Homo sapiens: one gene and its partner. The protein of the gene in region 2 purifies or fractionates together with the protein of the main gene of each other region. This does not show direct contact. Each region holds a gene or a part of one and is shown on either strand. Other genes may lie near its edges.

Region 1 (8,505 bases), on a different chromosome or scaffold from region 2:
CGACCTCAGGTAACCCGCCCGCTTCGGCCTCCCAAAGTGCTGGGATTACAGGCATAAGCCTCAGCGCCTGGCCTTATTTATTTATTTTTTGAGACACAGTTATCATTCTGTCACCCAGGCCAGAGTGCAGTGGTACAATTTCAGCTCACTGTAGCCTCTGCCTGCAGGGTTCAAGTGATTCTCCTGCCTCAGCCTCCCGAGAAACTGGAATTACAGGTGTGTGCCACCATGCCCAGCTAATTTTTATATTTTTAGTGGAGACGGGATTTCACCATGTTGGCCAGGCTGGTCTCGAACTCCTCTCAAGTGATTTGCCCTCCTCGGCCTCCCAAAGCTCTGGGATTATAGACGTGAGCCACCATACCCAGCCGAAGCTCACCATTTTATATGGCCATGGTTTGTGGCACCCCTAAACAATTATAATAGTAACATCAAAGATTACTGACCTCAAATCACCATAACAAATAATATAATAATGAAAAAAATTGCAGTATTGCAAATATTTCAAAATGTGACACAGAAGTACAACGTGAGCACATGGCTGCTGGAAAAAGGACTCCAATAGACTTGCTTGGCTGATAGACTTGCTTGACACAGGGTTGCCACAAACTTGATTTGTGAAAAATGCAGTATCTGGGAAGCAGGATGAAGGGAAGCACAATTGAAGGAGATATGCCTGTATTTTCTTGTTGAAGCAGTAAACCTGAATAGCTAAGAGTTTTCTCCTCTTTCTAGTCATTTCATACTCCAAAAATAGTTACTGAGGCACAAAAAACAAAGCTCTAGACGAGATAAATGGTGAAATGGAAAACAACCTCAATTTGCCAATCAGTAATTTTAAAGTTTTATTAATTAATACATATATTAATTTCCATTTCATGATTTATATCATCTGGAACTTTTTTTTGTGTCTCAGTAAGTATTCTTAGAGTATGAAAAATGCTAAGTTGAGCATTCTGTCTAATGCTGGACAGGTTTTTTCTTTGTCCATGGTCCTGATAATTTCCTTGTTTCATAAAAATAATTCTGCATTAGTGTGTGTAGTCAAGTAATACACCAGGGTTGTAGTGAAGAAGGCCGGAGGAATCAGTGGGTTTGGCTAATACTGAAAACAAAAATTGTTTTTCTTTTTTGGGGAAATATGCTAATTTTCTTACCATTAACTTTTCCTTTCTAATTAAGTTATACTAAGGTAATATCAAATGAATTTGTAAATCCTGAATATTAATTGCCAGCTTTCCTAAGGGAAGCCTGAAAGAATTGGATGACAAGGGTTTGACCTGGGGTTTGAAATTCACTGTAGATAAACCAGAGTGATAAATCCATCATCAGATAATGAAGGATTACAAATCGTTATGTGAATATGTAGAATGTTAGAGGGTCAGAGCATATCATGTAATTCCTATTCCAGCCCGGTTATCTGCTGTGTGTATTCCCAACATACTTTCTACTAACAGTTTAGAAGTGTTATGTGGCGATTCCAGGGTCTCTCAAGACAGCTCCTTTTTATTAAAGTAGGAAAAAATACTTGCTAAATCACCACTTTTTTACTTGCTTACTCATTTATTTCCAACCTTATTTGGAGTTAGAATTGAGAAGGAAAAGGGGGTAAATAAGACTATTTCAAAAGGCATGGTGTAGTCTCAAATACCTGTTGGATTATCAAATCCACAAGTGTGTATAAGTCATAGAACCAATAACTAAATCACATAGTAGGCCATGCATAGTGGTTCATGCCTATAATCCTAGCACTTTGGGAGGCTGAGGCAGGAGGAAGGAGTTTCAGACCAGTCTGGGCAACATAGTGAGACCCCCATCTCTAAAAAAAAAAATGTATATATTAGCTGGGTGTGGTGGCTTGCACCTGTAGTCCCAGCTACTCAGGAGGCTGGGGCAGGATGATGGCTTTAGCTCAGAAGGTGAAGGCTGCAGTGAACCATGATCACACCACTGCACTCCGGCCTGGGTGAGACCCTGTCTCATAAATAAAAGATAGTGCTACTCTTAGTAGTCATATGTTTGGTGTGAGTTCTTAAATGAGAGTTAAGAAATCATAAATTCTCAGTATCTGAGTACATATGAATGCATTTCATATGCTAAGAAAAGTGTTTATTAATATCATTTCTCTAAATGTAACGTGTGCAGGCTGATGTTTTTTTTCCCCTAAAATAACAGAAATTCCTACTTTTCAATTTCCTATTTGGGACTGTTAAACTGACTACAACTGTATAGTATTTGTGTCATCTATTTACTTGATAATGTTGTAAAACTGGGTATCTTTTTTAAAAATTAGCATTTTTAATGGCAAGAGAAGTAAAATCTTTGGTGTTTTTATAATGCTTTTATTTTTTCCTTTTTAGTGTTCTCACATCATTTTATAATGCTGAGGATGAATCAAATCTTCTCTTACCTAAACTACCTACACTGCCAAAAAAGTATGTATCACTGGTTTCTTTGAAATTAATCTTGCAGATTTCTCTTTCTTCTGCTTTTAACACTGTGACAATTTTCTCATGCGTTTTAAAATATGTATTTTTACTAAGAGTATTTTTTACCTTAATCTCTGTTTCCTTCTAGCTATAGCAACACCTCAAAAATATTTAGGTAAGATACGCCTTTTCTTGTTTTCAAGTAAGATAATCTGCTATTATTTGGAAGACAGAATTGAAAGATGACCCAATTTACTTCTATATTTTAGTGAAGAAAATTCTGATGAAATTATTAAGCTCTTGGGAGACGTCAGGTAAATCTTACAGATAAATAAGTCTAATTTCTTAAAGTTATTTCATATTTGAGGCAGTTTTCAGAAGCTTTAAGAGCAAATCCTTTATTTGCCATTTTATTTCATTGTTTTTTGTTTTTGTTTTCTTTTTGAGATGGAGTCTCTGTCACCCAGGCTGGAGTGCAGTGTCGTGATATTGGCTCACTACAACCTCTACTTCCTGGGCACAAGCGATTCTCCTGTCTCAGCCTCCTCCGAGTAGCTGGGACTACAGGCACGCGCCACCACACCCAGCTAATTTTTTTTTTTTTTTTTTGAGACGGAGTCTCGCTCTGTTGCCAGGCTGGAGTACAGTGGCGTTATCTCGGCTCACTGCAACCTCCGCCTTCCTGGTTCAAGTGATTCTTCTGCCTCAGCCTCCCGAGTAGCTGGGACTACAGGCACCCGCCACCAGGCCTGTCTAATTTTTTTATTTTTAGTAGGGACGGGGTTTCACCATGTTGGCCAGGATGGTCTCGATCTCTTGACCTCGTGATCCACCCGCCTTAGCCTCCAAAAGCGCTGGGATTACAGGCGTGAGCCACCGCGCCTGGCCTAATTTTTGTATTTTTAGTAGAGACGGGGTTTCACCATGTTGGCCAGGCTGGTCTCAGACTCCCAACCTCAGATGATCCACCCGCCTTGGCCTCCCAAAGTGTTGGGATTACAGGCATGAGCCACCGCACCTGGCCTTATCGTTGACATTAATACCTTCAAACAATATATAGACCTTAATATCTATTATTGTTTTTATTGTGTGGCCTTTCGTTTTATGAAGTTTTAATAATAATATGATGTACATATGTTTATTTTAATAAGTTAAAGGATATAAGTACTAGAGTTTCTAAAATTTTAAGTATTCATGTTTTTTAAGCCCATTTAATATATTTAGCATCATAACCATGATAAAACTGATGGCACTTTGTATTAGTTGGTAAAAGGATTGTTTTGTTATTGAGAGTGTATAAATATAGTTGTTATTAAAATAATGTATTCTTATTTTACTGTAAGCTGATTTTTTTTTAGGCTAGAGGAAATTTGTGTTCTTTGAAAAAAGGAATGAGCCTGATGTGACTGAATATTGAGTGTTAGTGGATTTGATGTCTCACTTCCCTCTGCAGGGGAGCTTTAGCATGTAGATTATATGAAAGCAGTAATAATTTATATCTCGCTTTAACAATGCAATCATCTGTGTTGTTGATTGGTTCTCAGCTTGTTGCATTGTTTTTAATTAGGCTTAATATTCTCGTCCTTGGAGGAAGCTCTGGATTTATTGAGCTTTATGCTTATGGAATGTTTAAAATTGCTCGAGTCACAGGGGTAAGATTTCTTTAACATTTTCTCTTCCTAAATTATTTCTCTTAGAATATACTAGGTACTTATGGAAAAAGAATAAAACACTAGGTTTTTTTTCAGTTTCGATTTTTGGAATTATTCTTAAATGTTCAGAGACTAATTTCCTTACTAAGATAAAATAATTGTGATATGTCTATAAAGATTGGGAGCTATTTGTGGAATTAGTCAAGTTTTTTTTTCTTTTTCTTTAACAGAAAGATTAGTATGATACACTTGATTATGATTTGATGTTTTTCTAGTGTGAGATGTAAAAGAGCTTCAATTTGTGATTGGAATGTAAATCTTCAGAAGCATTCTTAAGTCCAGTACTGACTGTACTATAGTTGCTACGTCTCAGTCTTCTCCATAGCTTTTTCATCAGACTCTTACACTCGCAAAAGGGGTAGAAAATATTGTAGGCTCTGTGGAATATGTTGGTTCTGCAGCACTTGATTTGAGACTTGGGTAGGGGTGAGGGAACCAGGTTATTTTTGTGGCCTTGTAACTAGAAAGGTCCATGCAGGCAGACACCTACCTTCATCTGCTACATGTGTGTGGCTGGAGCTGGGAATTTGTTTCTGCTTTTTAAAGCTCTGAGTTTTTGCTTTCTGCATGATAATCAGCTTCAACCTAGCAGTGATACTAAATATACTAAGGGGTTTGACTCTTTTACAGATTGCTGGTACTTGTCTTGCATTATGTTTATCAAGTGATTTGAAATCATTATCAGTGGTCACAGAAGTCTCTACCAATGGTGCTTCAGAAGTTTCATACTTTCAGGTGAGTATTGGAACTTGATAACGGTAGAGAGTAAATATGTATTTAACAGGTTTTATATAGGTTTTTATCCACATCTCACTGTATTGTAATGATCATTAAAATAATGCAAAAAAATCGACTTGGAATTTCTACATCCTAATATACTGAGTGTTATTATAGTGAATACCATATTATTCTTCCCATGCTCCAATACAGTTTTCATAAAAAGTGTTTTGGTGGTCTATTAATGACCATATTAATTTGTTGCTATTCCAGTTTGACTTTGTACCAAGTGTTTGCTTAGGACTCTGTCCCTGATAATAACAAAGGTTAATATTTATTGATTGTTTAATATGTGCCATATGCTGAATGCTTCAGAACAGTTGATTTGAATCTTCACAGCATCATAATAGGCAGATACTGTTATTATCCCCATTTTATAGGTAAGTACATGGACACACAAATACTTCAGAACTTGCTTGATGTCACAGGATGGGAAAGTGATGCTAGACAATCTGGCTGCATAATCTGTGCTCTTAACTAGCACATTGCATCTTGTGTAAAATGATCACTTAATATTGGGAAAATGCTTTATTGCGTGCTGTCTGCATTGTAGATTAAGGAAGCTAACTGGGCTCCCATAGAGTATTTAGATCATAGCCTTGCCAAGAAATCGAAAATTTTCATCTTAAATATCCCAGCCACTTAAGTATGTGTGAACTCTCAAACAAAAGTAGAACAAAAAAGATGCAAGATGCAATGTGTGTGATGTCTTCCAACATTCTCTTTGTATTCAGAGCATCAGAGAACTCTTGGTTTACTGTTCACTATGGTAATGGTTGTTCATATTTGCTCATCTTCTTAAGGTTATGTGAAACTATGATCACCAGGATTGCATTTGGATTATAATAAAATGATTCACTACTACTGTGAAGTTGGTAACAGATCATTTTTAATGACAAATTTATTAAGATACAATTCATATACCATTGATAGATATTTTCCCAATATTTATCAGTAGCCTTTAATTCCTTATACTTCCTTTAAGTTTTTACATATATTTGTGATTTAAACATTTCTTTGTAATACTGTTTCAAAATAGGTTATATTACATTTATTCTATCTACACAGGAGGGGTTGATAACCCAGAGAGAGTGATTTGTGTATGGTTATGTGTAGGTTAGGAGATCCTAAGGCTATGTGCTGTTTCCAAACCGTTCTGCTCAAAGAGGGCACAATTCTGACATAGTCTTTCTGATACGTAGTTTGACCCACACTCTAAATTACAGACTTTGCAGCAAGTGCATCTGATGATGACTCACTTTACTCTTTTGATTTTACAGCTTGAAACTAATCTGTTGTACTCTTTCTTACCTGAAGTAACTCGGATGGCCAGAAAGTTTACTCATATTTCAGCTCTGTTACAGGTATTTATTTAGAGCTTGTTTTATGTGAATATTTATTATCGGCTTCTAAAGTTCTGTAAATAAAAAGCTTCAAAATTTTGTTTTGTAAAGCTTTCTGAAGTAGAGGTATCTAGTCTGATAGATGATCTTATAAGGTCCATTAAAGCAGGAAAAGGACATTTAATTGAGAACCTACTTTCACCGCACCCTATTTTCCACCTCCAAAAGAGTTTAAATCTTTTAAAATACTCCCATAAATAAAATACCATTTACATTATAAAGTATTGTGGGAAAAACAGTCTTCACATGAGTTTACATTTGTTCATAATAAACCCACCCCAAATTACCTCCCAATTCTGTAGGTTGGTGATTTAGGCTCAGCTTAGCCAAGATGTTTGGGTGACCTGGAGAAGGTTCAGCTGATCTTGACTAGACTTGGTCATGCCAGCTGGTATGTGTCCCTTGGCTGTGATTCCTTGTCTCTACTCCACATCCTTCATACTCCAGCGAGCCAGCACAGGCTTGTCCACATGGTGGTGGTAACGGGGCATCGAGGGTGCAAGTGGAAGTGTACAAAGACTTTTGAGGCCCTGGAGTCAACAGTGTTATTTCTGCTGCATTCCGTTAGTCAAAGCGAGACTCAAGGGCTGAAGAAATGGACTCTGCATCTGACTGGAGGGGCTACAAAAGATTGTGGCCATGTTTTTCATTCTACCACAGTCATTAATTTATTTGATATTAAAGGTTTCTAGAGATCAGTATCTTTTTAAAATTGAATAATTGACCAAACCAGTATTTTGACAGTTAGTGTAGATAAGACATATCTTATATAAAAAGCTTGGAGATATTTGTTTCACCAGATAAAAATTTAAGAATGTTTTATTATGAAATTCTAAGAATCAATGGAATGTTTCGTAGTTAAGTGATGACCAAGCTGTTGTCTTTTTCTCCATCTTAACTGAGTTAAAAGAGTGATTGAGGCTGGGCACAGTGGCGCACACCTATAATCCCAGCACTTTGGGAGGCTGAGGCAGGTGGATCACTTGAGGCTTGGAGTTCGAGACCAGCCTGGCCAACATGGTAAAGCCCCGTCTCTACTAAAAATACAAAAATTAGCTGGGCATGGTGACGCACGCATATAATACCAGCTACTTGGGAGGCTGAGGCAGGAGAATCGCTTGAACCTGGGAGGCAGAGGTTGCAGTGAGCCAAGATGGCGTCACTGCACTCCAGCCTGGACGACAGAGCAAGACTCTGTCTCGATAAATAAATAATAAAAATAAAACAGTGATTGAAAGTAAATTCTAGATTTCTTTGAGACACTTGATCATAAGCACATATTATTTAGATAGCAAGTTGGTTTAAATATTTTTTACCATTTCAATTTTTCTTTTTTGCTAATAGTATATAAATTTGTCACTAACATGTATGTGTGAAGCATGGGAAGAAATACTAATGCAGATGGATTCTCGTCTCACCAAGTTTGTGCAGGTAAAGCAGCTGAAGTTTCCCATGGAGAGAGTTAAAGAATGCATGATGTATGTCTTTACCTTGAGGTACATGAGAAAAATCAGTTTGATTCATAAAAGGCTAAGATCATAATTTCTTTCAAATGGCTTCGTCTGACTTCAAACTGCTTCCTCAGATTTGCCAAAAGGGCTCTTTTCCCATTGATACAACTTAAGTGGGGACAGGATTGTGAAGTGGAGCTGGTGGGGCTTTGGCAATAAGGGCAGGTGTTAGAACAGCTGATTGGCTATCTTCTAGTCACTGATGTTCAGATGATCACTTTATGGATTTGATGGAAGTCTAAGGCAAGGAAAGGGAGTCATGCTCCTATAATTTTGAATAAATATGCTTATAATTTAAGAAATACATATATCACAATTTTTTTTTCACTTTTTTCCAGGAAAAGAACACAACCACATCAGTGCAAGATGAGTTCATGCACTTGCTATTATGGGGGAAAGCAAGGTAATAAACTCAGATTAGGTGCTCCTGTTTTTGCTTCTTTTTTAACAGTAATTATTTATTTGAAAAGTAGTTTATAGTCATAGTATGTGATTTTTTTAATTGATACATAATATTTTAATTGATACATAATGTGTTACATACTTACGGGGTATATGTGATGTTACATGCGTAGAATTTTTTGTGGGGCTATTTCTTTATTTTGTTTCTTGTTTGTGCTTCGAAATTTAAAAGTTGTAAGTGATGCATTCAGATTTCCAATAGAGAAGTGAC
Region 2 (4,690 bases):
ATATTTACTGAGCTTCTACCATGAGAAAGACACTTATGATTGGTACTGTGGTGGATGCAGAGATGAGCAGGCGTGCTATGGCTGATGTCCAGATAGAATTTCCCATCTAATGTGATCTTGACCATACCACACAAAGTGTGGTAAATACCACAAAACATGCATACATGGTTATAGGAGCCATCAGTTAACATCGCTACCTTAGTACGAGTGCATTATTCTGATATTTGTTACTATTTGGTTTTGAAGGAATCTCACATCACATACATTTAAAAATCTTTTGGTATTAGTATGCAAAACATTCAACATTAATTTTTAACAACAAGATCACTTAGATACAACTTTAGAATGGAAATATTATTGCTCCTTAAATATCTTAAGCTTCTAATGGTGTTTTTATTTGTTCATCATATGTCAGGAATAAAATAAGACATTTTAATTATTAATGGATCATCTTTAGATTCTTACGTAGTTATATATTTAATCTTCTCAGACACGAAGCTTAAATACTCATTAAGAGCTTACTAAATACGTGCCTTCAAGATTTTGTTGCACTAATAAAATGCTTTCTTTCATTGTGAAAATAATATATGTGTATTTAACATCACTTAATATACCAGTATATTTTTAATAATACCAAGAAAGACTTCAGAGGGCTGTAAAAAACTCCTGAAATGCTAAGAAATATCATGCATGTTTTGTAAATGTTCACATATTAGTACTCTCTTTATCATACCCAAGTGATGTGTTAAATAGAAAAAAACTTAAGATCATTCGAATGTATAGACTTACAATGATTTTATATTTAATATTTATATAAGAAAAAGGAAAGAATGTATGCTGATGATTCCTATTTTACCAAACACCATGATTTCCATTGAAAAATACTTTTTCTGTACAACAGTGACTAAATGTGAAGAAAATAAACATGAATAATTTGTGCACTTGCATTTGTATAATTTTATATCTGATCTCATCATTATAGACATTTTGTTCAAAATAATAAAGTCTGTTGTATCCAGCAAAGAAAAAAGGAAAAAAACAAAAGATCTGTACTTACAACAAATTAACAAATTAATAAGAATGCAAATAATTCATCAGATTTAAATTGAGTTTTTAGGATGTGTTTATAAACTTTTTTTAAATTGTTGTTTTTCTTTGAAGATTGAAAGTATTTGCAGGAATACTCGATACCATTTTAGGTAAAATATTAACACAAGAAAGCAAATGACCCTTAGGTTATTAATATTGATTTTATCTCTAAGACAAGAAGATAAAAGGAATTTTGAGGAAATATCCCTGATTAGGTAAATAAAAATTTCTCCTTTTTGGTTAGAAAAATCTCAAACAAAATTATATCAGAAGTGGAAAATTATCCAGTGAAATTAGATTGTGAAAGCAGTCAATCTAAGTTAAAACTGCATGGAAAATTTTTTTTTAAATTCTTTAAAATTTCTATGGGTTTAAAATCCAAAGGCAGATTCCTAACTGGATTCAGTGAACCCCTCCACTTTCACCTTTCCAAATTTTATTTGTTTCATTTGCATGCTCAGCCTTATGAAAAGTCGTGATAAGAAATTGGAGATGACCTTATTATAATAAGGAAGTTATGATGTCAAAGCAAGCATATTTTGGTCCACAAAAGTTCATTTGCTTAATGAAATCACAGAAGCTTCTTTTTATCATTACATCAAATTGTTTTCCCAGGCTTGCGTAATGGAATGTGAAGGTAAACTGCCTTCTCTGAAAATTTGGGAAACCTGCAAGGAGCTCCTGCAGCTGTCCAAACCAGAGCTTCCTCAAGATGGCACCAGCACCCTCAGAGAAAATAGCAAACCGGAAGAAAGCCATTTGCTAGCCAAAAGGTATGGGGGCTTCATGAAAAGGTATGGAGGCTTCATGAAGAAAATGGATGAGCTTTATCCCATGGAGCCAGAAGAAGAGGCCAATGGAAGTGAGATCCTCGCCAAGCGGTATGGGGGCTTCATGAAGAAGGATGCAGAGGAGGACGACTCGCTGGCCAATTCCTCAGACCTGCTAAAAGAGCTTCTGGAAACAGGGGACAACCGAGAGCGTAGCCACCACCAGGATGGCAGTGATAATGAGGAAGAAGTGAGCAAGAGATATGGGGGCTTCATGAGAGGCTTAAAGAGAAGCCCCCAACTGGAAGATGAAGCCAAAGAGCTGCAGAAGCGATATGGGGGCTTCATGAGAAGAGTAGGTCGCCCAGAGTGGTGGATGGACTACCAGAAACGGTATGGAGGTTTCCTGAAGCGCTTTGCCGAGGCTCTGCCCTCCGACGAAGAAGGCGAAAGTTACTCCAAAGAAGTTCCTGAAATGGAAAAAAGATACGGAGGATTTATGAGATTTTAATATCTTTTCCCACTAGTGGCCCCAGGCCCCAGCAAGCCTCCCTCCATCCTCCAGTGGGAAACTGTTGATGGTGTTTTATTGTCATGTGTTGCTTGCCTTGTATAGTTGACTTCATTGTCTGGATAACTATACAACCTGAAAACTGTCATTTCAGGTTCTGTGCTCTTTTTGGAGTCTTTAAGCTCAGTATTAGTCTATTGCAGCTATCTCGTTTTCATGCTAAAATAGTTTTTGTTATCTTGTCTCTTATTTTTGACAAACATCAATAAATGCTTACTTGTATATAGAGATAATAAACCTATTACCCCAAGTGCATAATATCCTTGTAAGTCTCTTTTTCTCCAAGGCTCTCATTTACCTTTGGGTTTCCGCATCAATCCTAGACTCAGGGACAGTAGAACCATCTGCTTTTGACATAATTTTGACATCATAATCATTGTCTTTCTTCTCCTTCAGCCAAGGCTCAAAAACATTTTTTATTTAATTCCTCACAGCATGAAATCTTAGATTAGTAAACACGTGGGAGCAAAATAAAATGTATTTTCACTCTCATTTCTGGAAATCAGATACATGAAGAAAAACCAAAGCCTAATAAAGGAGCCAGCTATGCCCCCATTAAACACACACACACACACACACACACACATACTTGCATTTACATCAGATGTGTATGTCTCTTTTCTTCAGTAAAGTATTTTAGAAGTTAGTAAGAAATTAAAGATAATTTAGTCCAATTTTACAAATGAAGAAAGGGAAGCCAAGAAAGGTTGTGTAGTTGGCCCAAAGTTGCCCAGCAGTTGAAGGACAAAAATAGGATTAAAACCCCAAACTTTTTGTGCCCAGTCAATATCCTTTTCACTGCGGTTCCTTATCTCCTATCCACGTCACTAGTAAGAATTGTAAGAACGTGGAACTACATCTTAGTCACCATTGTACACCTCTACACTATGACTGTAGCAGATTCTCCAATATCGGATGAATGGATATATGAATGATGAATAAATTAATTTGGTGACCAGATAATGAGGAAAGATATTGTGAGTGTTTTGTAAGGTAAATCCCCAAAACACAAGGTGCTTATGACTACTTCATATTAATGAGACAATGCTCAGATATAAGAAATGTAACTTTTCATTTTTCTTATTATTATTATTATACTTTAAGTTTTAGGGTACATGTGCACAGCATGCAGGTTTGTTACGTATGTAAACATGTGCCATTAACTCGTCATTCTGGTTTCTCTTCAGATCGTGCAAATCTTTCGCCTTTAACTTTTCATTTTTCTAACTGAAACAACATACGGCTTAACCCCTACTCACTAAATCATTTTTCCAGGACCCCCACCAACCCTTTCTCTTGTGTTTCTCAAAACATTGGAATTTAGCAACTCTGGAAAGTGGGGGACGAGTCTCTGGTCTGCAGTCTACCAAGGCTGCTGCCGAGATGCTCACTGTGCAAGCCTGTGTGCCCCATCTGATAAGGCAGCTGCACTGTGCTCGGCAGTTTGTTCTCTCTGTACAGCCCCGCCAGGGCTCACAGGACATCCACATGATCATGCTGTTAGGAGACCCATCTCCTGGAATTAGTGCAAGGAATCACAGGGCCCCACACTCACAGAGCCCCAACTCCATCAATCTTCCTGATCCTTGGTAAACTAATTTTTTCTTCCAGGCAAAGCCCGGGAGGAAAAAAGATAATACAATAATTATTGATAAGATAATGCCATTATTATCTCACAATAGTCCAATATGTATACTTACATATCTCATACAATGTGTTTGAGAAAATAACAAAGTTCACCATCAGACAAATACATTTTTCAAAGCAAGCGCAGTTTCATGCGCGTCGGTGTGAAGAGACCACCAAACAGGCTTTGTGTGAGCAATAAAGCTTTTAATCATCTGGGTGCAGGCGGGCTGAGTCCGAAAAGAGAGTCAGCAAAGGGAGATAAGGGTGAGGCCATTTTATAAGATTTGGGTAGGTAAAGGAAAATTACAGTCAAAGGGGGGTTGTTCTCTGGCGGGCAGGTGTGGGGGTCACAAGGTGCTCAGTAGGGGAGCTTTTGAGCCAGGACGAGCCAGGAGAAGGAATTTCACAAGATAATGTCATCACTTAAGGCAAGAACAGGCCATTTTCACTTCTTTTGTGGTAGAATGTCATCAGTTAAAGCAGGAACTGGCCATCTGGATGTGTACGTGCAGGTCACAGGGGATATGATGGCTTAGCTTGGGCTCAGAGGCCTGACACACAGTTCTTTTTTTTTTTTTTTAGAGATGAGGGCTCACTTGGTTGCCCAGGCTGGAGTGCAGTCGCTAGCTCA

Evidence for each region.
Region 1: the proteins of PENK (region 2) and ANAPC4 purify together in Homo sapiens (affinity purification with mass spectrometry; 3 studies listed by BioGRID and IntAct, with this or other methods). This does not show direct contact.

The regions. Positions count from the first base shown.
Region 1 is NC_000004.12:25,386,140-25,394,644, forward strand, and holds part of ANAPC4 (anaphase-promoting complex subunit 4), read left to right. Parts: intron 1-2,360; coding exon 2,361-2,435; intron 2,436-2,577; coding exon 2,578-2,604; intron 2,605-2,698; coding exon 2,699-2,743; intron 2,744-3,996; coding exon 3,997-4,081; intron 4,082-4,771; coding exon 4,772-4,876; intron 4,877-6,198; coding exon 6,199-6,282; intron 6,283-7,665; coding exon 7,666-7,752; intron 7,753-8,170; coding exon 8,171-8,235; intron 8,236-8,505. UniProt on the Homo sapiens protein: Component of the anaphase promoting complex/cyclosome (APC/C), a cell cycle-regulated E3 ubiquitin ligase that controls progression through mitosis and the G1 phase of the cell cycle.
Region 2 is NC_000008.11:56,438,952-56,443,641, reverse strand, and holds the end of PENK (proenkephalin-A preproprotein), read left to right. Parts: intron 1-1,704; coding exon 1,705-2,370; 3' UTR 2,371-2,685; downstream 2,686-4,690.